Homo sapiens: one gene and its partners. The protein of the gene in region 1 purifies or fractionates together with the protein of each later gene. This does not show direct contact. Each region holds a gene or a part of one and is shown in the gene's direction. Other genes may lie near its edges. The genes, in order: ALDH3A2, SAAL1, INTS1 and TBC1D9B.

Region 1 (7,948 bases):
AGAAAGAAATTCATTCCAAGTGAAGCTTTGTGGACATAGCCTGATCCTTGCTTTTCCCTTTAGAACATGACCTGCCTGCCTCTCCCACATGTGAGATGACTGACTCAGCTTTTTATTTCTCCTTTGGGACCTAGGCTAGGTGGGCTTTTCTACTCTCTACTAGAGCTATTACAAAATAGCCGATATGTAAACATTCTCATAACAAAAACCCAACCAGAAAAGCCACTGTCTTAAAGCCCTGTTCTATCCTCTCCCTTTGTAATACCGTCCTAAGTCAGTTGCTCCATGGGATGCGATGGCCCAGTTTGGCAGGACCATCTGTTCCTGGTTAAGGAAACCTTGTCCTATGACCAAGGAGCCTTGACCTATATAGCCACAGGTCCTTGTCTAGGAGGTAAACATATTGCCAGCACCCAGCACAGTGACTGACATGAGTGAGGGACAGGCGGGAAGAGGCCAATTGGTAGGTATTGCCAGATCCAAATTGGAAATGGTGGTGGCTTGTAGAGGGTGGTAGCAGGGGAGATAGTGGAAAGGGAAGGGGGTATTTTTGGGATCAAGCAGCAGGATTGGCTGATGGAGTGAATGTTGGAGGAGGGGGTGAATGAGAGAGGATGACTCCTGGGATTTTGGCTGGAGTAAGTAATAGTTTTGTAGCCCAAATGCTTAAAAGATTGGACTCTGTTGTCTCTGTTCCTCAGCTCACCACATAGGATCCTGGCATCCACTGTGCTAGTGCAGTAATCAACTCGGTAATTGTTCCATATGGTGTCTCCACTGCCCTCTAATTGCAAATCTAAGTGACTTGGGTTCAGTCCCTGTCCTACTTGACAAGATAGCCTGTGGCATCATTGACTATACCATCTTATTTAAAACAAAACAAGGCTGGGCGCAGTGGCTCATGCCTGTAATCCCAGCACTTTGGGAGGCCGAGGTGGGTGGATCACTTGAGGTCAGGAGTTCCAGACCAGCCTGGCCAACATGGTGAAACCCCATCTCTACTAAAAATACAAATGTTAGCTGGGTGTGGTGGTGCGTGCCTGTAGTCCCAGCTACCAGGGAGGCTGAGGCAGGAGAATTGCTTGAACCAGGGAGGTGGAGGTTGCAGTGAGCTGAGATTGCGCCACTGCACTCAAACCTGGCAAACAGAGCGAGACTCCGATCTCAAAATAAATAAATAAATAAATAAATAAATAAATAAATAAAAATAATAAAATAAAACAAGCAACCTATTATATACCCACAAAAATTAAAAATACAAAAAGAAGATGCAAAAGAAAAAAACAGGTTTACTCTCTTAGCAAATTTCAGGCATATAATACATTATTATAGTGGCCATGCTGTAAAAAAATAAAAATAAAAAATAAAAACAAGCCTTGACCCCCAAATGTAAAAAGAATACAGGCTTTTTAAGAAAACTTGGAAAAGATAGAAGAGCCCAAAGAATAAACATTTATATTACCCATAACCCCACTATGTAAAGATAACTGGTATATGTCTTGCACACATATGCACACACATATACACGGTCATCTGAATATTCTATTCAAAAAGGTATCATACTATATATTGTTCTGTACCCTGTATGTGACAGAATAGTGTGACACTTTTCCATGTCAATATTCTTGCATGTCATAATTTTAGTAGCTGCATACTTTTCCATCATATGAATGTGGCATATTTATGTAACCAATTCCCAGTATTAGATTTTTGTGATTTCAATTTTTTTGGTATTACGATTCTTATATAATGTATCTTTATGCAATCTCTGATTATTTCTTTAGGAAAAATGTCTACAAGTGTAATTACTCTGTTAAAAGGGCTTATACAATTTTCCAAATTGAAAAAAATGCTTTTTTCTTCTAATTCTCAAAGTAATATAGACACAGTGGCAAAAAGTCTAAACAGTTAAACTTTTTAATATTTTGGCATATAGTTTAGATTTTTCTTTTTTTTTTCTTTTTATCGAGACTGAGACTCCCTGTCACCTAAGCTGGAGTGCAGTGGTGTGATCTCAGCTCATTGCAACCTCCAACTCCTGGGTTCTAGCAATTCTCCTGGCTCAGCCTCCCAAGTAGCTGGAACTACAGGTGTGTGCCACCAGGCCCAGCTAATTTTTGTATTTTTAGTAGAGACACGGTTTTGCCATGTTAGCCAGCCTGGTCTCAAACTCCTGGGCTCAAGAGATCCACTTGCCTTGGCCTCCCAAAGTGCTGGGATTACAGGTGTGAGCCATCGCACCCAGCCTAGGTTTTTCTTTAGAAATGCTTCTCTTTAAGACTTTTGATAGATATTTCAAGTGTCTTTGCAGATTTCTGCCACTTTATATTCCCATGATCAGTATATGAGTGTTTACTTCCTTATATCCCCAATTCTGGATTATTCCATTATTAAATTTCTAGACAGAAAAGGGTCTCATTTCAATTTGTACTCCTTTGATTATTAGTGAGTTTGAATTTTTTTTACCACTCTCATGAATTTTCTATTTATGTCCTTTGATATTTTTGCTGTGTTCACATCTTCCTTATTATTGGTATATAAATAGCCTTTTTTATAAGTAAGAAAATCCTCAGTCCTATCTGTAATACATATCCCTTTCCAGATTTTAATTTTTCTTTTAATTTTATCTATGATTTGAAGCGTTTATTTATTTAGAGACAGAGTCTCACTCTGTCACCCAGGGTGGAGTGCAATGGCGCGACCTCGGTTCATTGCAACCTCTGACTCCTGGCTTCAAGCAATTCTCCTGCCCCAACCTCCCAAGTAGCTGGGATTACAGGCACCCGACACCACTCCTACCTAATTTTTGTAGTTTTAGTAGAGATGGGGTCTCACCATGTTGGCCAGGCTGGTCCTCAACTCCTGATCTCAGGTGATCCACCTGCCTTAGCCTCCCAAAGTGCTGGGATTACAGGCATGAGCCACCACATCTGGCCTAAGCCTGTGTGGCTTTTTGTTTTTTGGTTTCCGATTTGGAAAGTAGGCTTAGAAAAGCTTTCCCTATTTCATTATTATATAAATATCATCTGTAGGCTGGGTGCGGTTGCACACACCTGTAATCCCAGCACTTGGGGAGGCCAAGGCACCTGGCTAACATGGTGAAACCCCGTCTCTACTAAAAATACAAAAAATTAGCTGGGTGTGGCGGCACCACCTGTAATCCCAGCTACTTAGGAGGCTGAGGCAGTAGAATCACTTGAACCCTGGAGGCGGAGGTTGCAGTGAGCAGAGAGTGCACCACTGTACCTCCAGCTTGGGCAACAGAGCGAGACTCTGTCTCAAAAAAATAAGAATAAAATAAATAAATAATTAAATATTATCTGTAGTTTCCTTCCCTCCCTCCCTCCTTTTCTTCTTTTCTTTTCTTTTTTCTTTTCTTTTCTTTCCATTTAACCATGGAGTTGGCCAAGCATGGTGGCTCACACCTATAATCCCAGCACTTTGGGAGGCCGAGGCAGGTAGATCACCCGAGGTCAGAATCTTGAGACCAGCCTGGCCAACATGGTGAAAACTCATCTCCACAAAAAATACAAAAAAAAAAATTAGCTGGGCATTGTGGCATGCACATGTAGTCCCAGCTACTTGGGAGGCTGAGGCAGAAGAATCGCTTGAACCTGGGAGGCGGAGGCTGCAGTGAGCCAAGATCATGCCACTGCACTCCAGCCTGGGCAACAGAGCGAGACTCCATCTCAAAAAAACAAACAAACAAAAAAAACACCCTGGAGTTCACTTTAGAATGCCATACGCTGCATGATGTAATAATTTACCTTTTTTTTCCCAAAGAGTAAACTATGCTGGCACCATTTTTTGAAATAATCATCCTTATACCATCAGTACTCAATAAAAACACGTTTGGGTCATTCTTAGGGTTTTCTCATTGGTTGCATTATCTTTCTGGTTTGTTTTTTCCGTGGGCCAGTACCACAGTTTCAATTACAGTAGTTGTACAGTTAGCTTTATAAGTGACATTTAGTAAGTGCTTATTGTATGCCAGGTACTGCGGTTGAATCCACGCCTTTTCTTTTCTTTTTTTTCTTGTTTGAGATAGGGTCTCACTCTGTCACCCAAGCCAGAGTACAGTGGTGCAATCACGGCTCATTGCAGCCTCAACCTCTTAGGCTCAAACAATCTTCCCGCCTCAGCCTCCTGAATAGCTGGGATTACAAGGGTGCACCACCATGCCTGGCTAATTAAAAAAATTTTTTTTGTATAGAGGCGGGGTCTCACTGTGTTGCCCAGGCTGGTCTTGAATTCCTGGGCTCAAGCAATCCTCCCACCTCAGCCTCCCAACGTGCTGGGATTACAGGTGTGAGCCACCGTGCCCGGTCAAATGCACGCATTTTAGAGACAGACAACTAATAAGTAGTAAAGCCAAGAAATGAGCCAAAGTTGTCTGGCTCCAAAACCCACATATTCAACCAATCCAGTAGTTTGCTCTTTAGGACACAGTACTATTTCAATACCTAAAAGTAAAAGCTCCTCATTATTACTGTTTTTCGATGTTTTCTTGCTTGTTCTTATCTAAATTTATTTTTCCAGATGATCTTTGGAATCACTACCTCCTCCTACTTAAAACAAACAAACAAAACCTTCCGAAATCCCCTAGGATTTTTATTAAAATTGATTTAAACTTAAATTATTTTGGGAAGAATTTATATCTTTAAAATGTGGAGTCTTAATGGGAATATGTTATATCATCTCTTCATTTATATAGCCCTTTTATATCTTTCAACAAAACTTTGTAATTTCCTTCATGTCAGTTTTTTGCTTTTTATTTATTTTTTGAGACAGGGTCTCACTCTGTTGACCAGGCTGGAATGCAGTGTGGCACAATCATAGCTCACTGCAACTTTGAACTCCTGGGCTCAAGCAATCCTCCTGCATCAGCCTCCCAAATTTTTCCCAGTTTCTTACTACCTTGGTTATGTCTTTGGCTCGCCCCTCCCTTATTCTTTTTTTTTTTTTTTTTGAGACGGAGTCTCGCTCTGTCGCCCAGGCTGGAGTGCAGTGGCGCGATCTCAGCTCACTGCAACCTCCGCCTCCCAGGTTCAAGCAATTCTCCTACCTCAGCCTCCCAGGTAGCTGGGACTACAGGCGTGCGCCACCACGTCCAACTAATTTTTGTATTTTTAGTAGAGACGGGATTTAACGATGTTGGCCAGGATGGTCTTGATCTCTTGACCTTGTGATCCACCCGCCTTGGCCTCCCAAAGTGCTGGGATTACAGGCGTGAGCCACCGCACCCGGCCCCCTCCCTCATTCTTTACCCTCCCTCAGAGTTAGGGTTTCTCATGGTCTTGTCCTTGGGTCTCTTCTCACACCAGGCCTGCTTCATGAATGATTCCTTCCTGCAGCCTGGCCTTGGTAAACTGCTCCCTGGCCTCTGGTCACCTGTGTCTTATATCACACATGCCATTCCCTCTGCCCAGCTCACACTGCTCCGCTTTGTGCCTGTCAGTCTGTTGTACACACAATGAATTAGAGAAATGAAACTGTCACAGAGCATGGCTTTGTGGAGGGCAGAGATTTACACTTGCTTATTATCATCCAGCTGTGCAACCTTGTTGCCCTGTCTTACTTTCCACAGGCTTTGAGAAAGCAAGTGGGTGTGTGGGGCCATGGATGAATGAAGCCACATGGGATGGTGGGAAGAGAGCACATATAGCATTTAGAGTCTGATCCAGGTTCGGGTTCTGGCTTTGCCACTTAGCAGCCGTGTGACCCTGGGCAGGTTAACTGACCCTGTAAGCTCCCTTTCCCTCTCTGGAAATGAGGCTGCTGATAATTCACCAAGTGGGATTGTGGTGAGAATTATCTTAAGAGAATGATTTAACTCTTAGCACAGTCCCTGGCATAAATGAGAGCCACAGCTCTAGAAGAGGTGCAAGTCCTTGTCTTGCTCATGGAAAGCATCCTGTTTGACAGGGAAATTGACTTTTCCAGGGAAGTTGGTAAGGACTTCCTGAAAAGAGATACTTCAGCTGGCAGAGATGTTCAGTGGGGTTCCCAGGCAGCAGGGAGTGCATGTGAGCTTTCCCGGTCGTTGTTAGACAGAAGTAGCTTGCATCATCTACAGTGAAGCTTGTTTTGTCTGTTCCCTTTATTTCAGGTTCCAGTGGGATGGGAGCTTATCACGGAAAACATAGTTTTGATACTTTTTCTCATCAGCGTCCCTGTTTATTAAAAAGTTTAAAGAGAGAAGGTGCTAACAAACTCAGATATCCTCCCAACAGCCAGTCAAAGGTGGATTGGGGAAAATTTTTTCTCTTGAAACGGTTCAACAAAGAAAAACTCGGTCTCCTGTTGCTCACTTTCCTGGGTATTGTAGCCGCTGTGCTTGTCAAGGTGAGTCCCTATAACCCATGAGTGCCATTCAGTCTGGTCCTGGCCTGATGGCTGCCAGATGCATATTCTAGCAGGACTCTACATTAACTTGTAGAGTCTAAGACAGGGTCAGTGAACCACAGCCTGCTGGCCAGCTACCCGTTTTTGTCACTGAAGTTATTGGAACACAGCCACACCCACTTGTTTAATCATCCACAGCTGCTTTCATGGGACAGTGACAGAGCTGAGTAGTTGCAACAGAGGCTGAATGGCCCTCAGAGCCTAAATTATTACAGAAAAGTTTGCTGATCTCTGGTCTAAGAGATTAAAACAGCGTAGAACTTGATTGCAGAATTCTGAGCTGTCTGATCAAAGGGTTAGCCCTTTGATCCTTTTGGTATTGGACTTTCCTTGTCACTTACAGCTTTGTTCTTGAATGTGCATGAAATCAGCTTACCACAGAGGTGAAGGCAAGAACTCTGGTACAACAGCTTTGGTGAGGGATATTTTATTAGGCTTGAGTTTTTTTCCTCCAAAGTTCACTACCTGATAAAGTTTATCTTTGGTGATTAGTCATTATAGGGATGGGCTTGCAAAGAGGCCCTCATGATAGCTGCCTTCTCAAAGCAGTTTGCGTATTTTGAGATGAAAGAGGAAATCCGTAATTAAAGTTAAGATGGAATGAGGAAGGCAATTGTGTCTGTGGTGCCCTCAGCCGTTCAACTGAGGATATAACATTGAAAATATTGACCATATCAGTGAAGAATGGGCTTGGAAAAGGCAATGGTAATAGTTGTGTTTATGTTTTGTTTAAAATTTGAAAGGGGGCCGGCGCAGTGGCTCACACCTGTAATCCTAGCACTTCGGGAGGCTGAGGCAGGGGAATCACGAGGTCAGGAGTTCAAGACCAGCCTGACCAATATGGTGAAACCCTGTCTCTACTAAAAATACAAAAATTAGCCAGGCATGGTGGCACGCACCTGTAGTCCCAGCTACTCGGGAGGCTGAGGGAGGAGAATCACTTGAACCCGGGAGGTGGAGGTTGCAGTGAGCCAAGATCATGCCACTGCACTCCAGCCTGGGCAATAGAGCGAGACTCCATCTCAACAACAACAACAACAAAAATTTGAAAGGGGTTTGGCTCATCTTACAGTATCCCAGCCTTAGTGGAATTGGAGATACCAGTTGCATTTGAAATCATTTGGGTTTTCTCAGAAATACCAAGCTGTGCTGAGGAGAAAGGCCCTGTTGATTTTTCTGGTAGTTCACAGACTGCGTTGGTCCAGTAAGCAGAGATGAACACCAGATTTCAAAACCCAGCCCTGTCTGTTAAGAGTGAGGTAGGAACTTTTTGTTTTCTTTCTATATGTAAGGTGGGCCAAGTTGGGGTATGTTTTCAAGGGTTTTTTGGTTTGTTTTTGTTTTTGTTTTTGTTTTTGTTTTTATTTTTGTTTTTTTTTTGCTACAGTTGGAGGCTTAAGGGTTATTGAAAAAAGAATGGGCCGGGCGCAGTGGCTCACGCCTGTAATCCTAGCACTTTGGGAGGCCAAGGCAGGTGGATTGCCTGAGTTCCGGAGTTCGAGAACAGCCTGGCCAACATGGTGAAACCCCATCTCTACTAAAA
Region 2 (7,948 bases), on another chromosome or scaffold:
AGACTCATGCACTCTTGGGGAGAACATGCAAACTCCACACAGACAGTGGCCCTGGCCAGGAATCAAATTTTTTTCTCATCAGCGTTACGAGGAAATGTTATTTGATCACCTGCTGTATTTGGGTACCTGGTTAGTATTGTAGACAACTTTTATTCATGTTTTCTTTCTTTGTGTTTCTGAAGATTGTTAGCCCTGAAAACACCAAATCTAGCTCAGATGATGAGGAGCAGCTGACGGAGCTTGATGAAGAAATGGAGAATGAAATTTGCAGAGTATGGGATATGTCAATGGATGAGGTATGAGGCTGGAAACAAAACTCTGAAGACTGTTGGGTGAGGAGATGGTGAATGAATGTTTTAAAAACGGTTCAGTCCTTCACTCTGGGGAAAGGCTTTATCTCCTGTCTGTAATCACACCCATATATGATATAGGGAATGAGATCCCAGGGGCTATAAATGCTAAACTTCTGTCTTTGAGGCTGGAGGATTTGAGCTCTCAACAGATTCGGACTAAATACGTAGCTCTTATGAATGTATTCCTATACACATGTAGGCCGGGAAAGTTCTGATACTTACCTACCTAAAGAGAGCTCTGGCCATATATTTGACAGCAGGTTAGGAGTTAGAAGACCACTGATATACCATGATAATATTAGAAGGAAAGGACAATAAATAATTATATGTCTGTAATTGCAGTATTAATCATAGTGTTTTAATATCTGTATTTTATTCTATAGCTCAAAAGCATTTTCATATATAGTATTCTATTTGATCTTCACAATAACCCTGTGATGTAGGTAGTACCCTTATTTTACAGTTAAGAAAATAGAGGCCAAAAGACATTAAATGACCTATGTAATCTTTCTTGTTTTATTACCTGGACTTTAGCAATAGCTTCCTGATTAAAATCCTTGTTTTAGTCTCTTTCACCTCCCTTCTGTCCTCTACATTGCCACCCGTGTTACCTTTTTTTCCGGAAATACAGACTTAATTGTACTCATTTTCTTAAAAATTGTCAATGGCTATTCATTGTTTCAGTCATTTTATTTAAAACTTTATTGAGGTATAATTAACACCAAAAAACTGCATATTGTTTTGAAGTATCATTGACATTGATTTTTTTTTTTTTTTTGAGATGGAGTCTCTATCACCTAGGCTGGAGTACAGTGGTGCGATCTCAGCTCACTGCAATCTCCGCCTCGAGGGCTCAAGTGATTCTCCTGCCATAGCGTCCAGAGTAGCTGGGAGTACAGGTGTGAGCCACCAATCCCTGCGAATTTTTATATTTTTAGTGGAGACAGGGTTTTACCCTGTTGGCGAGGCTGGTCTTGAACTGCTGACCTCAAATGATCCATCCTCCTCGGCCTCCCAAAGTGCTGGGATTATAGGAGTGAGTCACCGCACCCAGCCAATAAACTTTGACGGATGTGTACGCAGATTAAGCTGTCACTGTAATCAGGATACAGCGCATACCCATCACCCCTGAAAGTTTCTTTATGGTCCTTGGTAGTCTCTTCCTCTTGCCTCTCCATTCCTCCATCCCCTCCAGGCAACCACTGATCTGCTTTCTGTCACTACAGATTAGTATGTATTCTAGAGTTTTATATGAATGTGCTCATATGCTTTTTTTGGTCTGGCTCTTTTATACAGCATAATTATTTTGAGATTCATCCATGTTGTGTATATCAGTGGCTTTTTTTTTTTTTTTTATTGCTGAATGGTATTCCATTATATGTATATACCACAATTTATTTTTTACCTGTTGATGAATGTTGGAGTTGTTTAAGGCTTATTACAGATAAAGCTGTTGTGAACTTTTGTATACAAGTGTGTATGGACATATACTTTGTTTTTCCTTGGGTGAATACCTAGAGTGGTGTGTTAGTCCATTCTCATACTGCTATAAGGAAATACCTGAGACTGGGTAATTTATGAAGGAAAGAGGTTTAATTGACTCTCAGTTCAGTATGGCTGGGGAGGCCTCAGGAGACTTACAATCATGGCAGAAGGGGAAGGGGAAGCAGGCACCTTATTCACACGGTGGCAGGAAGGAGAAGTGCGAGCAGGGGAAATGCCAGACGCTTATAAAACTATCAGATCTCATGAGACTCACTCATTATCATGAGAACAGCATGGGGGAAACCACCCCCGTGATTCACTTACCTCCACCTAGTCTTGCCCTTGATACGTGGGGATTATGGGGATTGCAATTCAAGGTCAGATTTAGGAGGGGACACAGAGCCAGACCATATATCAAGTGGCATGGCTGGATCATACGGTAGGTGTATGCTTAACTTTTTAAGAAACTTTCAATTTGTTTTCCTAAGCAGTTTTTTACCATTTTACATAACCACAAGCAGTGTATGAGACATAATTCCAGGTCCAATTTCTCCTCAACCTCACCAACACTTAGTATGGTCAGTCTTCTTAATTTTAGCCATGCTAATAAGTATGTAATGATAGCTCATTGTGATTATAATTTGGACTTCCTTAATTCCTAATGATGAGCATCTTTTCATGTGTTTATTTGTACTCTGTGTATCTTTTTTGGTGAAGTACCTGTTTGAATCTTCTGCCTGCTTTTTAATTGTGTTGTTTTCTTACATTTTCTTCTAAAAGTTTTATAATTTTAGGTTTTACATATAAGTCTGTGATCCATTTTGAGTTGATTTTTGTATAGTATATGGTGCAAGGATGGATGAAGTTTATTTTTTTGCTTATGGATATTTAATTGTTCAAGTTCATTTGTTGAAAAGACGATCCTTTCTCCACTAATTGCTTTTGTGTCTTTGTCAAAAATCAGTTGTCCACATACTTTATAGTTTGAAATCTTTTCTTTTTAAAGATAGACATCAAGCACTATAGAATTTTCCCTAAATATTTATGCTTTACCAGTATTCCACAATTTCTGATATGCTGTGTTTACAATTTTTTTTGAGACAGAGTCTCGCTCTGTATTTTTTGTAGAGATGGGGTTTTGCCATGTTGGCCAGGCTGGTCTTGAACTCCTGGCCTCAAGTGATCCCCCTGCCCCGGCCTCCCAAAGTGCTGGGATTACAGGCGTGAGCCACCATGCCCGCAGAAGTTCAGAATACTTTCTAATATTCTTTACTTTTTCTTTGGTTTATAGGTAAGTTTCAAATATTTGGGAATGTTTCAGTTATCTTTCTCTTGCTGTGGTTGGTGAACACTGAATCCTTTTAAATGTGTTGAGATTTGTTTTATAGCCCAGAATATGGTTTTAAGTAAACCTGAAATATTTACCATGTTGACTTAAAAAGCATGTGTGTTCTGCTGTTGCTGGGTGGAATATCTTATTCTCAATGTCAGATCAGGTTGGTTGAGAGTATTGTTCAGATCTACTTTCTATTCTACAATTATTGATAAATTATGGTTAAACAAATTTTTTTAAAAAGAAATAAAACCTGTGTTTTAAATGAACTCTTAGGGTGAAAGTCTCAGTTTTAAAATTGAGAAAACAGCGCTACTGTTTGAAGGAGGTTATTGGTGCAGGGCAAAGTCATGTTCTTTGGCCTCCTTTTGCTCCCTTACAAGAGGTGCCCTTGAGGCACCACTCAGAACTGAGCTCTCCACTGACAATTGAGGTCCCTGGCGCAAAGTCTGGTGAGTTTATATCTCAGTCTTGTCGCCTATCGTTCTGTAACCATGAATTCAGTGTGCGAGGACCAGAGACCTCCAGATACTTCCTGCACTTTCACGTGTCCATGGGCACTATTCATGCCGCTCTGCTTAGAATGGCTTCCAGCTGGCAAAATCCTTCTCATTGTTTATGGCCCGGCTTCAATGTCACCTCCTCTGTGATGCCACCCCAGACACTCCAGTCAGAATTAACCTGTCTTGTTTTGGTGTTCCCACAGAATTGCTTCACTCTGTTACATGTGTCCTCTGATGGATTTAAATTCCTTCTCATCAAAGCATAATGTCACCCCTTCTGAAATGCCTTCTTTTCAATGTCATGTCTAAAGTAGCCCGCTTTATCTTGGTTTCTAGCACATATCTTATTTTCTTTGTAGCATTTAGAAATTGTGTAGTTTAGTTGTTTTATATTTATTGTTTGTTCATTTCTTTAGAATGAAAATTCCATGGGACTGAGCCCTTATTTAGCTTGTTCACTGATGTATCCCCAGAACCTAAAACAGTGCCTATTAGGTTTTTCAGAAAATATTTGGGGAGTAATGAATGAATAGATGAATACCTGAGAGGTAGCATGTTGTGCTGGTTAAGAACATAGTCTCGCTGGGTACTTGCCTGTATTCCCAGCTATTTGGGAGGCTGAGGCAGGAGGATCACTTGAGCCCAGTAGTTGGAGGCTGCAGTGAGCTATGATAATGCCTGTGAATCTGTGAATAGCCACTGCTCCAGTATGGACAGGATAGCAAGACCCCCATCTCTTTTAAAAAACAAGACCATAGGCTCAAATCAGACTCATGGGTTCAAATCCTAGCTTTGCTCTGCTGAGACTGTATAATCTTGGGCAGGTTGCTACACTTTTTAAACTTCAGTTTGCTTATGAGTGTAATGGGGCTAACAATGATAACTAGTTGATAGAGTTGTTTTGAGAATTAAATGAGATAGCATGCAAGCCACTTCACTGTGCCTGGCATTTAATACTTGTTCAATGAATGTTAATTTTATTACTGTTGGTGTTGATATTGTTAGGCCACCCTTGTGCTACTCCAGGAATTACCATTAAATTTAAAAATTTCTGCATGTGGCAAAGAATTGCCCACAGGACAGCTTGATCACTTACAGTGAAGAGAATCTGCCATTATGACTTTCAGTTTAGAGTGTATCTTTGAAAATACTATTTTCTCTGACCATGGTCCTTTAGTAAGTAGAGTGTGTCTCTCTCAGTCAGTTGTCTGGCAGGTTACTGGTTTCACTTGCTGTGGAGAATAATTGCCTGTCTCTTTGAGATGTTCCAGGGCCCTTAATTTTCACATAAGCCATGCAGCTTATATTTTAAGTTAAGGCTTCTCAAATACACACCTCACATTTAGTGAAAATCTGAAGCAGTGGACAGCCAGAGACTTAATTTTATTTATATATTTTACATTGCAGGTCCCCAAGCAAACTGACTTAGCTTTTGTGTCTTACATTCCTAGGTGAGATTTGGCTCATTTGGGGCCACATGTCCACTCACATGTCACCTGTGTGTTACGCCCCTTTAGGCACTGTGGCAGACTCTGTAGGAAGAAGTTATGAGGCTGCCACAGTTACATTGTGATCAGAATTTTTATTCTATTGATGATTTTGAAAACACAAATTCTGGTTTTGGACAGGACCCAATAGCAGTTCTTGACTTCTTTCCCCTACCGTGTTTTAAGCTCTTGGAGGACAAGAAGGAATTTTGTTTTTGTTTGAGACAAAGTCTCACTCTGTCGCCCAGGCTAGAGTGCAGTGGCGAGATCTCAGCTCACTGCACCCTCTGCCTCACGGGTTCAAGCAATCCTTCCACCTCAGCCTCCTGAGTAGGTGGGACTACAGATGGTACACCACCATGCCCAGCTAATTTTTGTATTGTTTGTAGAGATGGCGTTTCACTATGTTTGCCTAGGCTGGTCTCGAACTCCTGGGCTCAAGTGATCCGCCTGTCCTGGCCTCCCAAAGTGTTAGGATTACAGGCGTGAGCCACCTCGCCCAGCCAAGTTTTACCTTTTTTTTTTTTTTCCTTTTTTTCTCGCTGTGTTGCCCAGGCTGGAGTACAGTGGCAAAGTCATGGCTCACTGCAACCTTGAGCTCCCCAGGCTCAAGTGATCCTCCCACCTCAACCTCCCAAGTAGCTGGGACTGCAGGCATGTGCCACCACACCTGGCTAATTTTCGTATTTTTTGTGGATATGGGTTTTCACTATGTTTGCCCAAGCTGGGCTCAAGTAATCCACCCACCTCGGCCTTCTAACCAGCCTCCCAAAGTGTTAGGATTACAGGTGTGAACCACTGCGCCCAGCGTGTTGCTTTTTTCCCTTGTCCCCCGCTTCTAGTTTAATACCTGATAGGTAATCACCAAATGTGTTTGAATGTGTTTAATGAGAATTCCTAGTGGGCAGAAAAATTATTAAGGTAAATAGATTCGGGCAGAAAAGAGTGGGATAATCCTCTGGAGTATTGTAGGTAGTTTAGATTTGTTTATGAAATTGTTCCATTGTCTGGGACTAGTTACCATAAAGACTCTCTAACATCACTTTTGTCTGTTGACACAGTTCCTAAGCCTGTGTTTTTTTTTTCTTGTGTCTAAAATTCTAATTTTATTTTATTTTTTTATTTTTTTTGGAGACAGAGTCTCGCTCTGTCACCCAGGCTGGAGTGCAGTGGCGTGATCTCAGCTCACTGCAACCTCTGCCTCCCGGGTTCTAGCGATTCGCCTGCCTCAGCCTCCTGAGTAGCTGGGACTACAGGTGCATGCCGCCATGCCCGGCTAATTTTTTTGTATTTTTAGTAGAGACAGGGTTTCACCGTGTTGCCCAGCTGGTCTTGAACTCCTGAGCTCAGGCAATCTGCCAGCCTTGGCCTCCCAATGTGCTAGGATTACAGGTGTCAGCCACTGCGCCTGGCGTAAAATTCTAATTTTAATATAGAATTTTATGGTTGCCTGAGCTTTAGGGTTTAGGGAGGAATATTCAACATCCAAGTTAATAATCATTTTTCTTTTCAGGACGTGGCTTTATTTCTCCAAGAATTTAATGCTCCTGATATATTCATGGGAGTACTGGCCAAGTCCAAGTGTCCTCGATTAAGAGTAAGTATGTACATTTCTAAAGCCTTCTTCTTTGAAGCAATAAGAACAGATAGTGCTGGATAGTCTTTTATTTTTCTCACTTTGATTTTCTTACTGACCATAAATCAACAAATCAGCCTGTAGATGTTAATTGAACATTGCCAGGTCCTAGGTAATTTGCTATTTAAATTTATTTTATTTTATTTTTGAGACAGGGTCTCACTATGTCTCCAGGGCTTGGAGTGCAGTGGCGTGATCACGGCTCACTGCAGTCTTGACCTCCTGGGCTCAAGGGACCCTCCCACCTCAGCCTCCCAAGTAACTGGGAGTATAGGTGTAAGCCACCACACCCAGCTAATTTTTATTTTTATTTTGTGGAGACAAAGGTCTCCTTATGTTGCCCAGGCTGGTCTTGAACTCCTGGCCTCAAGTGATCCTCCCACCTTGGCCTCCCAAAGTGCTGGGATTATAAGCGTGAGCTAAATGCCTGTAATAATTTAAAATATTAAATTATTAATAATTTAATAATTTAAAATTATGAAAATCATAGAATTTTAGATTCAGGCCGGACCAGGGAAATTAGCACTTTCATTTACCAGCTGTGGAGACGAGTTAGGCATAACCACTGTTATGCTGCTAGTATGTATCAGAACAAGGAACAGAGCCTGGGCCTCCCATTTTTCAGTTGATTTCTCTTTTTTACTGACAAAATCCACCATTGCTTGAAAACCATTCTAAACTCAGCCTGCTGCTTAAGACCTCTACTCTCTGAACCTAACTCATCTTTCCAGCATAAAATCTGGATAGCCAGGTAACCCTTCTGATTTAGCCAGACCTTTCTACTCCCTGTCTCATGCTGTCTCCGTGCCTCCCTTTGTGTGCCTTCTGTCCCCTCTCAGTATTTGCATCTGTTAATTCACAGTGGTACTTTTCCTTCCACACCTTCCCAAGTAAGTAAGTAAGCTTTCAGTAGTCATTGCTGTTAGTAAACTGCCAAGAACAATAGATAAAGACTAAAGGAGAGGCCTTTATATACTGTGCAGTGTACTGTGCTTTATTGCCAATTAAATTGCCATGTGCTATGCATATCATGGATTAGTAAATATCTGTTCAATAATTATAATTATGAAAAACTGCTGTTTACTGAATACCTGGTCTTACTACTATGAGGTATACTTTCAAAGAACTAAATCTTGGGTGAAGATATGTGT
Region 3 (4,561 bases), on another chromosome or scaffold:
CGTGTCAGATATGCTGCTCCTGAGGCCGGGGAGGGCTGCTGAGCGTGGTGCTCATCCCAGGGCGCAGAGGCCGCCCCACCCTGTGCCGAAGCCGTCTGAACCCACCCCTGCAGCTCTCTGGCTCTCTGTCCCGTTCCACGCACATGTGGCTTCCCCGCCCGGCCCTCCCTCTGAGCGTCCTGGCCTCTCCTGCATGCCTGTGTCCACACGCTCCCATGCCACCCTAGTTTGACCCCTGACCCAGCCTTCCTCCTGCCAGCGTCTTCCTCCCAGGTGAAAGCATCTTCTCTCCCCAGCGACCTGTCCTTCGACAACAGTGACCTGGTGATGCTGAAATCCCTCCTTGCAGGGCTCAGCCTGCCCAGCAGGGACGACAGGACCGACCGAGGCCTGGACGAAGAGGGCGAGGGTGAGTGGGGCTGCCAGGGGCTGCTGGAAGCAGCTGCGGAACAGTCCTACAGGGCCTGGTTTTCCCAGCGCACAGCCAGCCCTGGGCCGTCCGAGGCGTCCCGATGGGGGCTGTGTGAGCCTGGGACCTTGCTGGCTGGCCCCTGACCCACCTCAAGGGGACGAAGCACTGACTGGTGCCTGACAGAGCATCAGCACACCTGCCCCCCGGCACATCGCCCCGCCCCGGCAAATGGCCCTCCCCACCCCCCCGTCCCTGGCACATCCACCATCCACCAGTGCTTGTCCGAGGTGTCCCTCCCCAGGAAGCCTCCCCTGGTCCTACTGGGCAAGGCTTGTCCTTGGTTTTTCCCTGCCTGAGGTGACACGGCACCGCAGCACGTCTCTCCTGTGCCGCCGGAAGAGCGCCAGGCCCGGGTCCCAAGGGGCCATCCCGTCTTGTGCCCAGTGGGTCCTGGCCCACATTGCGAGAAACCCAGCAGGGAGAGACTCGCAGAGGTGCATGCGCCGGATCCAAAGGCAGCTCCCGGCTCCTGGCTCCACCCCATTTGTGGAGCGCTGCTGTGTGCAGGCACCTTGGGAGCCTGGGCAGTGGCCGCCGTGCTCTCGGGAGGGCAGGTCCTGGTGCCTCAGTGTGGCACGTCCTGCCGCTCCCGCCCTCCTGCAGCACTGCCACTGTCTTCCAGAGGAGAGCTCAGCCGGCTCCTTGCCCCTGGTCAGCGTCTCCCTGTTCACCCCTCTGACCGCGGCCGAGATGGCCCCCTACATGAAACGGCTTTCCCGGGGCCAAACGGTGGAGGGTGAGTCAGGCCCTGCTTCACCCACGCCAGGTCAGCGCCCTGGGTCCCATGGGGCTGCGGGCAGCAGCCAGTAGCCATTTGGGCACTGACTTTGGCGTGAGCCTGGCCCACGCTGGGCTGTGGGTGGGTGGGCTGTTCCTCACAGTGGGGAGCACCCCCAGAGAGGGCCTTAGAAACTCAGGGGCCCAGGGGAGCTGGAGGTGGCTGCTCTGCTTCAGGCACAGCAAAAAGCAGGGGAGCCCCCTAAGGTGGTGGGGGTACAGCAGGAAGAGGTCAGGCGGGTGGGCAAGACCAGCGGGTGGGCAGTACCGGTGGCCGCTGTCAGAGGACAGCCAAGGCTGAGCGGCCCGGATGGAGTCGGGCCGTGGGGACACTTGGTGCTAAGAGCACCCTGGATATGGGGCTGCCGTGAGGGGTCAACCCCTCTCCTTGGAGGCCACTAGTAGGGGCAGGGCCGGGTATTTGTGGAGCTTGGGGGCAGGTGACTGCCTGGGGCGTCACTGGGCTCATGCTTTCCAGTGCTTTCTGTCCTGTGGTGCTCGGGGCCTTGCCCCCTCTGGGTGGCTGGGGTGGGGTGGGCAGAGGTCTGCCTGGGCCCTTCAGTTCTGGTCTGGCCCTCTCTCTGTGTCAGATCTGCTGGAGGTTCTGAGTGACATAGACGAGATGTCCCGGCGGAGACCCGAGATCCTGAGCTTCTTCTCGGTGAGCTGGATGGGGCTGAGGGAGAGCTGGGAGGAGCCACTCCCTTGGGGAACCCCAGCAGGGCCACCACCCCAACATGGCGTGCCCGCGCTGAGCCCCAGGGAGTCCTCTGAGGCTGGGCTTCGGGTGGGGGCCCCAGCCCAGGTGTTCACAGTCAAGCCGCCGCCAGAGCAGGCCTGCCTTCAGCCCCGGGCTGGGACCGGCCAGTGGCACGTGCGTCCTGCCTTCTGGATAGGGGCCTAGGGTCCCTGCCGTTGCCGCCAACCATCACGAGACCAAGAGGTGAAGGGGCCTTGATGGGGGCTGGACCCCTTGGTCACACACCTCCCACCTTTCCCCCGGTCAGACCAACCTGCAGCGGCTGATGAGCTCGGCCGAGGAGTGTTGCCGCAACCTCGCCTTCAGCCTGGCCCTGCGCTCCATGCAGAACAGCCCCAGGTGAGGCCACCGCCGGCCTCTGTCCCGCCGCCACCGCTGGGCCCTGCTAACCCAGGTCACCGCTTGACCCGCCTGGTGGCCAGACCAGGCTTCCAGGCGGCTCAGCTCGCCCTGTCGGGTGGGGGTCTGGCGTGGGCACAGGGTGGAGGTTCCCACTGAAGTGTGTGGGTCTTTCAGCATTGCAGCCGCTTTCCTGCCCACGTTCATGTACTGCCTGGGCAGCCAGGACTTTGAGGTGGTGCAGACGGCCCTCCGGAACCTGCCTGAGTACGCTCTCCTGTGCCAAGGTGAGGACTGGCCCCCCGCCCAGGGCCCTGGCAGCCCTCGGGGAGGCCGGAGGTGCGTCCCCCGAGGGCTGGCTCTTGGGAGTCCCGAGGTCTGGTCACTGCGGCCAGGATGTTGTGGCCAGCGTGACGTGCAGGGCCCCGTTTCCCCCACAGAGCACGCGGCTGTGCTGCTCCACCGGGCCTTCCTGGTGGGCATGTACGGCCAGATGGACCCCAGCGCGCAGATCTCCGAGGCCCTGAGGATCCTGCATATGGAGGCCGTGATGTGAGCCTGTGGCAGCCGACCCCCCTCCAAGCCCCGGCCCGTCCCGTCCCCGGGGATCCTCGAGGCAAAGCCCAGGAAGCGTGGGCGTTGCTGGTCTGTCCGAGGAGGTGAGGGCGCCGAGCCCTGAGGCCAGGCAGGCCCAGGAGCAATACTCCGAGCCCTGGGGTGGCTCCGGGCCGGCCGCTGGCATCAGGGGCCGTCCAGCAAGCCCTCATTCACCTTCTGGGCCACAGCCCTGCCGCGGAGCGGCGGATCCCCCCGGGCATGGCCTGGGCTGGTTTTGAATGAAACGACCTGAACTGTCTGTGTGCTCTCTGGTGTCCCATGTCGCCCTCTGGCCAGTGAGAGCCTCAAGGACCCTGGCCTTGGCTTCCCAGCCCCACAGTGCAGGGAGTTGAGCAGGGTCCGGGGTGGTGGAGACCAGGGCCAGGCTGGGCTCTCCCTTGGGCCAGCAGTTCCCGCAGGTGTTGAGGGTCGGGGGATGCTGCCCACTTGGCCGCCCCCGCCCCACGTCATGGTCTCCCTGTCGAGTGCCGGCCCTGGGCCCTGCCGGGCCTCAAGTCCTCTGCCCACGGGGTCGGCCTCTGTTGAGTGAGTCCGGCCTTGTCAGGCTGCGTGGGGGACTGGCCCAGCTGACTGGTCTCTCTCTCCTGCACTAAAAGGATCAACAAGGCCCTGAGAGCCTCAACTGTGGGCGTCCCTCTGTGGGAGCTGAGTTGGGGTCCCATTCCAGAAGAGTCCGAGTAGCCGGTGGTGCTGCTCGTCCTGCCTTTGCAGGCACCAGCTCCCAGGGGAGGGTCTGGGAGGGTCCTAGTGCATGCGGGGCGGAGCTTGGCATGGGGCCCTGTTTGCTGGCCCGCAGTGCACTCTCCTCCCTCCCAGCCAGGTTGGGGTTAGAGCCGCCCACCCCTCTGTCCTCGCTGCACCGGGGTCTTTCCAGCACACAGATGGGACCCGTGCTCTCCCGGTTCCCCATGAGTGCTCCCAGGTCAGCCAGGCCCCGGCTGCCCTCCACCCCAGCCGCTGTGGCTAAGAAGCTGACCCAGGCCCTCCTGCAAGCCCAGGTGGCGCGAGGCCTCAAGGTTCTAGTGATGCTGTGGCCTTGGGGGATGCCCCGCAACAGCACCCAGCAAGGGGGCAGCTGGGCTCCAGGCCCACAGCCTCCCAGCCCAGCCCCTGGCCTGCACACCTGCACCACCTGCCCGGGCCCCTGGGCACTCCTGCACCCGCCTGCCCACCCTCGGATTCTTCCAGGCTGCACAGGGCCGGGGACCAGGTCCCGGGTGGGGTGAGCCAGTGCCGGGTCTGTCACCAGGCGTGCCTGTCCACAGCTGGCTCCTGTGGCTCCGGGGGACTGGGAGGCTGCTCTGGGAGTGACTTGGAGGCCCATGGGCCGCTGAGCCGCCTCCATCCCAGCTGTGCGCGGCCGCCCTCCCCCACCCTTGCCCTTAGTGCGTTGCCTTCAGGCCCTTGGTGCGGGCACCTCTGCCCTGGGTCTGAATGTGTGTTAGGGTTAGGGACAGGGACAGCAGTGAGGAGGCCTAACAGGCCGGGGTGTGGGGTGAGGCCCTTCCTGCTCTGTGGTTGGCTCTCCTACCTCTGCGCGGATAAGGGGCAGGGCCGAGATTTGAGCCCTGGGGCCCTGGAGCCATGGGCTGCCC
Region 4 (8,574 bases), on another chromosome or scaffold:
GTGAGCAGTCTCCTGTCAGTTGAGGTGGAGGCTCCCGGCCCATCTTTGCTCTCCTCAGGCTGCCCAGCTCCTGGCGGCACATGGTGGCCTGGCAAAGCTGACTTGGCCTCCTCAGTTCCCCACCCATCCGCGGATCATCGCCTTCCCTAGCCACCTCTCTCTATAGCCACCGACATCTGCGGAGCGTCACAGACTGGTTCTGAGCTGTGGTTTACAAATTCAACCCAACACAGAGTGAATTCAAATTTGCTTTTGGAACAGCCTTTATCTCCAATTAAGTGCAAGTATATTTACACTATGTGATATTAAAGGACTTCTCCAATGACTGGGAGGTACTGAACCAAGATGTTTGTAAAGAAACGGTGGGGTGAGGTGGTTAGGTAGAATATACCGTCCTGGCCATTTCTCTTCCTTCAGGCGAGTAAGCGCTCCTTCAGCAGAAAGGCTGCGGATTGCTGGCTGTGCTCTGTGGACTGGGCCAGTAGGTGTGGCCCAGGTCCAGGTCCTGGCACCTCTGCTGAGTGCCCAGCCTGAGATGACACATGCCATCCTGGAGAGAAGCAGAGAGGGTGCTGTCTCCAGGCGTTCTCCAGACAGCCTGGGCCTGGCTTGCTGAGCCAGCTGCAGGAGGGGATCTCCTGACTGGGGCTTGGGACCAGATCTGCTGCAGAGAGGCAATAACTCTGTCTAAAAAGAAAACTTGTCCCGTGTGATTACAAAAACAGGAAAAGGCTCCAAGCTAGGAAATGAGATTTGAGGTATGGAGAACATTCTCACCTGATGGAAGCATCCTGTTCCTGTACAGGAGGAGGAGCTGGTGCAAGCCCTAGGCCACATATGTCACAGTTGTTTTGGACCCTCCGTAGCTTTTATACTCATAAAATATTAAAGTTGCCCCTTTCATATTTGGGTCATTGAAAGAGCCCACCGTACTCTAGGTTCCTGCTCACTATGCACAACATCTCAGAAGATGGCGTACAAAACTATTTTTCTAACTATAGCACAGGTAATGTGGGGGTGGGGAGGCTTGGGATATACCTAAATGTGGCAAATGATTTATCTTCCACCTTGAGGGATGAAAAGGAAACTATGCACTTGAATTTTAATTAAAATTTTAATTTAATTCATTGGATAGCTTGTGCCAGAAAGAACAGTCAATATTCAAGAAGCAAAACTGACGATTAGCTCAGTTTCGGGCCTCCCTGTCGGGGGAGTTTTCTTGTCTGGAACACAAACACCTACAAGTAGAGTGTGAGCTGGTTCTTGACAATCAGATCTCATCAACCCTTTGAAATGTTCTGGGCAGCACAGCTCCTTGGTCTGCATGGTTGGTGTAAGTATAATCAAGTAGTGAAATTGTATGGTATATACCTATATGCCAACAGTGTACACCCGTATGTGCAGAATTTGCTAATATAACCATTTCAATAAAAACCTATTGAAAAAGCTGATTTGACCACATGGAGTATTGTTGGTGGTGACGTGTATCACTGAGGACTCTCTTGGTTACAAATGACAGAAAACCCAGCCAAAACTGGCTAACACAAAAGGGGAATGTCATGGCTCCCAAAAGCCAAAATGCCCAGGGGTGCCTATGTCAGGCTTGGTGTGATTTCACCCTCAAATGCTGACACCAAGACACATGCCAACTTTGCTCCTCATTGGGAACCCCATCCCCAGGCTCAGGGTGGCAGTAGCTCCATCAACACAAGAGCCAGTCCCCAGGAGGTGGCCCAGGTCAGGACGGTATTTCCCTGGCCCAACTGACTTGGTTGGAGGCACATGGCCATCACCAGCCAGCCCCTGTGATCACAGATAGAATGCACCGATGGCCTCAGCTGGCATGGGCTCCACCTTCACAGCCCAGGAGTCCATGTGTCTTCACCTGACAGACAAGAGCTGAGCGTTCTAAGGCACGGTTCCCACTGCAGAAAAACAAACGACACTGCACAGACGGGAGAAGTGAATGCTGGGGGCAAAGGCAGCACGTGTCTGACACGTGTGGAAAAGCACTGGAGCCAGAGGCCGGGTGCAGTGGCTCACGCCTGTAATCCCAGCACTTTGGGAGGCCGAGGCGGGCAGATCACTTGAGGTCAGGATTTCGAGACCATCCTGGCTAACATGGTGAAACCTCCTCTCTACTAAAAATACTAAAATTAGCCAGGCATGGTGGCACGCACCTGTACTCCCAGCTACTTGGGAGGCTGAGGCAGGAGAATCGCTTGAACTTGGGAGGCAGAGGCTGCAGTGAGCCAGGATCATGCCACTGCACTCCAGCCTGGGCGACAGAGTGAGACTCCGTCTCAAAAATAAAAAAATAAAAAAATTTTTTAAATGGGCAAAGGACATTTCTCCAAATAGACATTTCTCCAGATAAAATATACAAATAACCCAAAAGCCCATCATCAGTCATCAGGGAAATGGAAATCCAAACCACAGCGAGATACCATTTCCCACCCTCTAGAAATGAGCATCAAAAAAAAAGAAAGACAATAACAAGTGTTGACAAGATATGGAAAAACTAGAACTCTTTTTTTTTTTTTTTTTTTTGAGACGGAGTCTCACTCTGCTGCCCAGGCTGAAGTTGCAGTGGCGTGATCTCGGCTCACTGCAACCTCCACCTCCCGGGTTCAAGCAATTCTCCTGCCTCAGCCTCCCGAGTAGCTGGGACAAGCATATGCCACCACGTCCGGCTAATTTTTGTATTTTTAGTAGAGACGGGGTTTCACCGTGTTAGCCAGGATGGTCTTGATCTCCTAACCTTGTGATCTGCCCACCTCGGCCTCCCAAAGTGCTGGGGTTACAGGCGTGAGCCGCCGCGCCCTGCCTAGAACTCTTACACCCAGCTGGTGGGCATGTGGAATGCTACAGCTGCTTTGGAGCGCAGTGTGGTCACTGCTTAAAAAGTTAAACATAGCTGTACCACATGACCCAACAATACCACTCCTCAATATATGCCCAAGAGAATTAAAAACACATATTCACACAAAGACTTGTACACATGTTCATGGCAGCATTATTTATAATAGACGAGGGGTAAACAATCCAAATGTCCATCCAAATGAATAAAATGCGGTGCATCCATACCGTGGGGTACTATTCAGCCATAAGGAGGAATGAAGCATCAATACGTGCTACAACGTGGGTGAACCTCGAACACATGATGGGAAGTGAAAGAAGACAGACACAAAAGACCACATATTGTAAGGTTCCATTTATATGAAGAAATGGCTAGAATGGGAAAAATGTATAGAGACAAAATAGATTGATGGTTGCCAGGGCAAAGCCGGGGGGAAGTGGGGAATGGCAGCTAATGGGTAAGGGGTTTCTTTTGACTTGATAAAAATGTTCTGGAATTAGTGATGATGGATGCCCAGCCTAGTGAATATACTAAAAACCACTACGTTTTGCACTTTAAAAGAGTGAACGTTACGGAATGTGACTTATATCTCAGAAAATCAAAAAGAAGTAAGCTTAGCACGCACATACTAAGTGATCGATAAATGTTTGTTCTTTTTCTTCTTATAAAAAACCATTCTCGAGGAGTGGTCTCCAGGTCAGCAGCATCAACATCACCTAGGAACGAGTTAGCAGTGCAAACACCCTGGGAGGGAGGGGGCAGCAACCTGTGTGGCTGTTTTTTGTTTTGTTTTGTTTTCAGATGGAGTCTTGCTATATTGCCCTGGCCGATTTTGAACTCCTGGCCTCAAGTGATCCTACCACCTCAGCCTCCCAAGTGGCTGGGACTACAGCAGCCTGTTTGAATCAGCCTTCCAGGTGATCCTAATGTATACCCAATTTGAGAACCACTGGGATTAAGGAACAAGACGACTCTTTACCTCCTCTCAGGGTGTTAAAAAGTGCAGTTCTTCCAAATTCTTTCCCTCTAGAGAGCACAATGACAATATTAGTTCAGACTTCCAAGGTGTTGAAGAAAGCCCGCCTCTGCATCTTGAAAGCTGATTCCTATATCCAGCAACATTGAAGAAGACTGCAGATCACTCTGGGTGTCAACTGCATGTACCTACATCCATCGCACCAAGATTCTTGAGTGCCAATCACAGAAACCCACCTGGAAGTCAGGTCCAGCTCCAAGGATGGTTTAACTGCCCCCTTCCCTTTGCCCTCTAGCCAGACCCTGGTGAGGGTTCCAGCCAGCAGGGTGACCCCACATCCCAGTCGACCCCGGACAGGCCCCAGGCCCGTTGTCCCAGGTGGAGTTGACAGCCCCCTCATGCAGAAGGCTGTGTGTGGACTGGCGCTGCCCCTGCAGGCCAACACTGGGAGACCAGGGACCCGCATTCGCCTGCAGCCAGCCTCACACTTGCGCAGAAGCCGCCACTGGGCCCAGGGCCAGTCCAGACCCCATCCCCAGGGCCGGCCAGCCTCTGTGACCCGTCTGTCAGGGGAGGGGCAGCACTGATTTCCAAGGATGCAGCCCGTATCAGGGCCTCCTGGCACCTGCCCTGCGCTGGAAGATTCTTCTAGTCTCCCGGCCCCAGTGTCAGAATTCTGAGAACTGGCCGGGCGCGATGGTTCACTCCTGTAATCCCAGGACTTGGGAGGCCAATGTAGGCGGATCACCCGAGGTCAGGAGTTCGAGACCAGCCTGGCCAACATGGTGAAACCCCGTCTCTACTAAAAATACAAAAAAATTAGCCGGGCGTGTTGGCGGGAGCCTGTAATCCCAGCTAAAGAGGCTGGGGCAGGAGAATCACTTGAACCCGGGAGGCAGAGGTTGCAGTGAGCTGAGATTGCGCCACTGCACTCCAGCCTGGGCGACACAGCAAGACTCTGTCGAAAAAAAAAAAAGAAAAGAAAGCTGAGAATTAGGAGGAACTGCAAACCCTTTCCAGGCGCCCTTTGCAGTGCTAACACGCCCCGGGTTGCACGCGCAACCAGCCAAAAGCCGCCAAACTCTGCTTCTTGACATCCTTCTCTCACACTGCACAGCTTTCAAAACGCCAGAAGCCCTGCTCTGCACAGCGGCTCCCCTGTCTGCGGACTGGGCCGTTCCGTTCTGGACCCAGGCCGGAGGCCGTGGGCTGCACCGCTCCAGGAGGCCAGGCTGGCGCGCGCCCGAGGCCGGGGCTGAGGGGGCGGCGCGGAACTCGGGCCGCGTGCGGGAGCGCCACACGCCCGCCAGGGGGCGCCGCCCGCCCGGCCCCGCCCCGCCCCGGCCCGCTCCGCACGCTCCGCTCCGCACGCTCCGCTCCGGGACGCCGACGGCGGCGGGCGCTTCCGTCTCGCGGGCCTCGGCCCGGTGCGAGCGGCTCCGCGATGTGGCTGAGCCCGGAGGAGGTGCTGGTGGCCAATGCGCTGTGGGTGACGGAGCGGGCCAACCCCTTCTTCGTGCTGCAGCGACGCCGGGGCCACGGCAGGGGCGGCGGCCTTACGGGTGAGAGGCGCGCGGGCGGCCGGGCCTGTGGGCGCCGCGGCTGGGCTGGCGGCGGGGCTGGCGGCGGGCGGCGGGCGGGTCCGGTTCCGGCCCGGCCTCGGCGCGTCGCGGCGGACACGCACGCCAGCGCGCGGCGGGGCGGGGGCGCGAGGCCAGGACCCGGGAGCCGGGCGCGGAGGGGCCGGGGCGGGGAGGCGAGGGGCTGGCGGGAGGCGAATGCGCCCTCGGCGGGCTCTCCTCAGGTCGGCTTGGGGCGGCCAAGTGGAGACCGGCGGCGGCTTCTGCCCGGATTCGGCGCCCGCGAGCCCCGGGGGCCGTGCAGCTTCCCGGGATCTCACCGCCGAAAGTTGGCGAGACCGCCCTGTCCTCATCCTCCACCTCAGTTTCCCCAGGTGCCTCTAAGGGGCCAGGTGACGCCAGCGCACGTTTTCTTTTGCCCTCTTCTTCGTGCCCATCTCACCAAAGTATCGCCCTTTTAGCAAGATCAGAGGTCCCTGGAGCTGGCCGCACCCCCATTCCCCCAGCTTCTCCTCCCCCACCTTTCCTGCTCCTGGCTGCTCTCAGAGCTGCGCACCCAAGGCTGTGGGTAGCGGCACAGGGTGTTCCTGCAAGCTCGCCAAGGTGGCCCTTTGTGGGCCCGGGTGCCACCATCACACAGGATGAAGCTGGACAGGCACCCTTGGAGTCGTGCGGCCTGTGGGATCCAGGGGAGGCCCACAGGCCACTCCCTCCGCAGGTGGTGTCCGGGGCCCCTCATGCTCCAGGGCCTGCGCCCAGCACTGCAGGAGCCCGGCTGGCTCGGGCTCAGTGCCTGTGCTCTTCGGGGCACCGACTGTTGCCCTACAGGATTGCGGTCCCAGTGTTGCCAGGTCGTCCAGTTTATCAAGAGCATTTTCTGTGAATCATCCTGATTTTCAGTGTGAGCAGCTAATAGCCAGATGCAGACGGAGGCTTCTCCTGGGCCACGTTTCTTCATGTGGAAGAGACTGTTCTGTTCCCAGAAACACTCAGTGTTCCCTTCAGCTTCGGGTTCCCTCCCAGTGGGCTTCAAGGATCTCGGGCTCCTGTTCTGGACCCGCCTCCTAGATCCAGCTGTTCAGTCGGCAGCCCCTGTGGCTAACCTCGAAGCTACTGCAAGCCCGATGAAGAAAGCGAGGGACCGGCACCTTTTCTTCCGCCAGCGCGCCAGGGTGTCATCAGCGCGCCAGTGTGTCATATTCGCTGGTGTACTTGAAACACTTGTGCTGTGCTCGGCAGGCTTATGTGGGTCGTCTCATTGAACGGGCGGGTGCAGGTGCAGCCCGGTCTCTGTACACCTCCTTCCTGCGGGCTCTTCTCCTTTCCACCTCACTCTCCGTGTCCCCTGGGACCGAGCTCCCAGGGTCCCCCCAAGGGAACCCTTCTTTGAACCCTCTCCCAATCTCTCCCCACTGCTAGGTTTGGTGTGTCCTGCTGTGCCCTCTGACAGGGCCTTCCCTGTGCCATCATGGGCATCGTGGCCTCCTGAGTACTGTCCTCCCTGAAGAGGAGCAGACAGGGATGTGGTTTTATCCAAGCCATCTATTAAAAACATGCCAACCTAGACTTTTCATTAAAGAATCTGAATAGCTAGCTTGGCCAACATGGCAAAACCCCGTCTCTACTAAAAATATAAAATTTATCCAGGCATGGTGGCACGCGCCTGTTATCCCAGCTACTCGGGAGGCTGAGGCACGAGAATCGCTTGAACCCAGGAGGTCAAGGTTGCAGTGAGCCGAGATGGCGCCATTGCACTCCACCTTGGGCGACAGAGCGAGACTATCTCAAAAAAGTATTAATGGACTATGAAACAAAAGTGTTAAAGTTGAATAACAGCAATAAAAATTGTTCTGACATCAACAGGAAAAATGGTAACAAAATATTTTCAGATCATGCCAAAAGCAGCACTTCGTTAAAAGGAAGAAAAAATTTCAAGTAAAAACAATAAACAGGTTTTTAGATTGCTCGATAATTCAATTAGTGAATCAAACAATGATAAAAGCTATATATTTCCTGCTGATTTGTCAGGAAATAGTGACACTGACAAAGATAGCATTACCTAAAATATAAAAGCAAAGATAGCGTTGCCACAGACTGCTTAATGTGTGTCATCTATCAAAGGGGTATATGTGATGAGAAGAAAAACTTGAAATGCCCTCAAATGTTTCAGTTCAGAAATGAAAAAACTTTATATTTTCCCAAATTTGACAATTCTAAAGATCGACTTCTTCAGTTATGATTTTTTGAGGCTAAAAGAAACTTCCTTAAACTGTCGGTAATAAAAAATCAGTGAGTCATGGCAAAGGGGAGACATTATCTTTCTGTTCTTGATATGGAAAATAATGTTGCAGAATCATTGTCCTGTGTGTGAAGAAGCGATGAGTACAGGACCAGAACTGTCCGGAAGACGTATTTCAGGAGACGCACATGGCAGTTAGGAAAACATTGTGTTGGTTTTCTGGATTTTGTGATATTTCTGATATTGTTCTTTTTTAACTTTAACGTGTAGCTCTGTACTTTCTCGGTCTAAAGCAATACTTGTTTTGTAGTCTAGTTTTGTATACGTAAAGAGGGCTTCCCAGAATTGTTTAAGCTCTGGCCCCATGAAACTTGTATCTGCCTCTGCCTGCAAGTGTTTCTGAGCCAGGAGAAGAAGCAGATGCTTCCAGGAAGAAGTAGAAGGGGATGTTTTTGATCGGGATCAGACACTGGCTGAAGGCCTTTGACCGCAGGGGTCATTCCGGACGTTTCCCTCGTTGGGCTGGACCCTTTGGGTAGCGTCACCATCCTGTCTGCCTCCGGCCAGACTCAGCCTTCAGGGGCCTCAGTCCGGCCCTCCCCTCACCCTCTATGTCTCTCTGCCCTGTTCCCAGGTCTTCTCGTGGGCACCCTGGACGTGGTGCTGGACTCCAGTGCCCGCGTGGCCCCTTACCGCATCCTGCACCAGACCCAGGACTCCCAGGTCTACTGGACAGTGGCGTGTGGTAGGTGCCCTGAGTGGTGAGGGGTGCTGGGCAGGGCCTGCCCTGGAAGGGCCGTTGCCGAGAGGAAGGGGTGTGTAGCCCACGTGTCTGGGTGGTATTCCCTGCTGACAGCATAGCCCAAGGCTGCAAGAGGGAAGTGGAGGAGCCTTCGCTTCCATCTTAGAAAGGCAGCTC

The links.
Region 2: the proteins of ALDH3A2 (region 1) and SAAL1 purify together in Homo sapiens (affinity purification with mass spectrometry; 3 studies listed by BioGRID and IntAct, with this or other methods). This does not show direct contact.
Region 3: the proteins of ALDH3A2 (region 1) and INTS1 purify together in Homo sapiens (affinity purification with mass spectrometry; 3 studies listed by BioGRID and IntAct, with this or other methods). This does not show direct contact.
Region 4: the proteins of ALDH3A2 (region 1) and TBC1D9B purify together in Homo sapiens (affinity purification with mass spectrometry; 3 studies listed by BioGRID and IntAct, with this or other methods). This does not show direct contact.

The regions. Positions count from the first base shown.
Region 1 is NC_000017.11:19,665,612-19,673,559, forward strand, and holds part of ALDH3A2 (aldehyde dehydrogenase family 3 member A2), read left to right. Parts: intron 1-6,109; coding exon 6,110-6,345; intron 6,346-7,539; coding exon of another isoform or gene 7,540-7,623; exon of another isoform or gene 7,624-7,664; intron 7,665-7,948.
Region 2 is NC_000011.10:18,095,581-18,103,528, reverse strand, and holds part of SAAL1 (protein SAAL1), read left to right. Parts: intron 1-182; coding exon 183-296; intron 297-6,674; coding exon 6,675-6,758; intron 6,759-7,948. UniProt on the Homo sapiens protein: Plays a role in promoting the proliferation of synovial fibroblasts in response to pro-inflammatory stimuli.
Region 3 is NC_000007.14:1,468,920-1,473,480, reverse strand, and holds the end of INTS1 (integrator complex subunit 1), read left to right. Parts: intron 1-296; coding exon 297-409; intron 410-1,094; coding exon 1,095-1,208; coding exon of another isoform or gene 1,209-1,238; intron 1,239-1,839; coding exon 1,840-1,910; intron 1,911-2,256; coding exon 2,257-2,348; intron 2,349-2,525; coding exon 2,526-2,635; intron 2,636-2,788; coding exon 2,789-2,904; 3' UTR 2,905-3,204; downstream 3,205-4,561. UniProt on the Homo sapiens protein: Component of the integrator complex, a multiprotein complex that terminates RNA polymerase II (Pol II) transcription in the promoter-proximal region of genes.
Region 4 is NC_000005.10:179,904,528-179,913,101, reverse strand, and holds the start of TBC1D9B (TBC1 domain family member 9B), read left to right. Parts: upstream 1-5,204; 5' UTR 5,205-5,280; coding exon 5,281-5,398; intron 5,399-8,289; coding exon 8,290-8,400; intron 8,401-8,574. UniProt on the Homo sapiens protein: May act as a GTPase-activating protein for Rab family protein(s).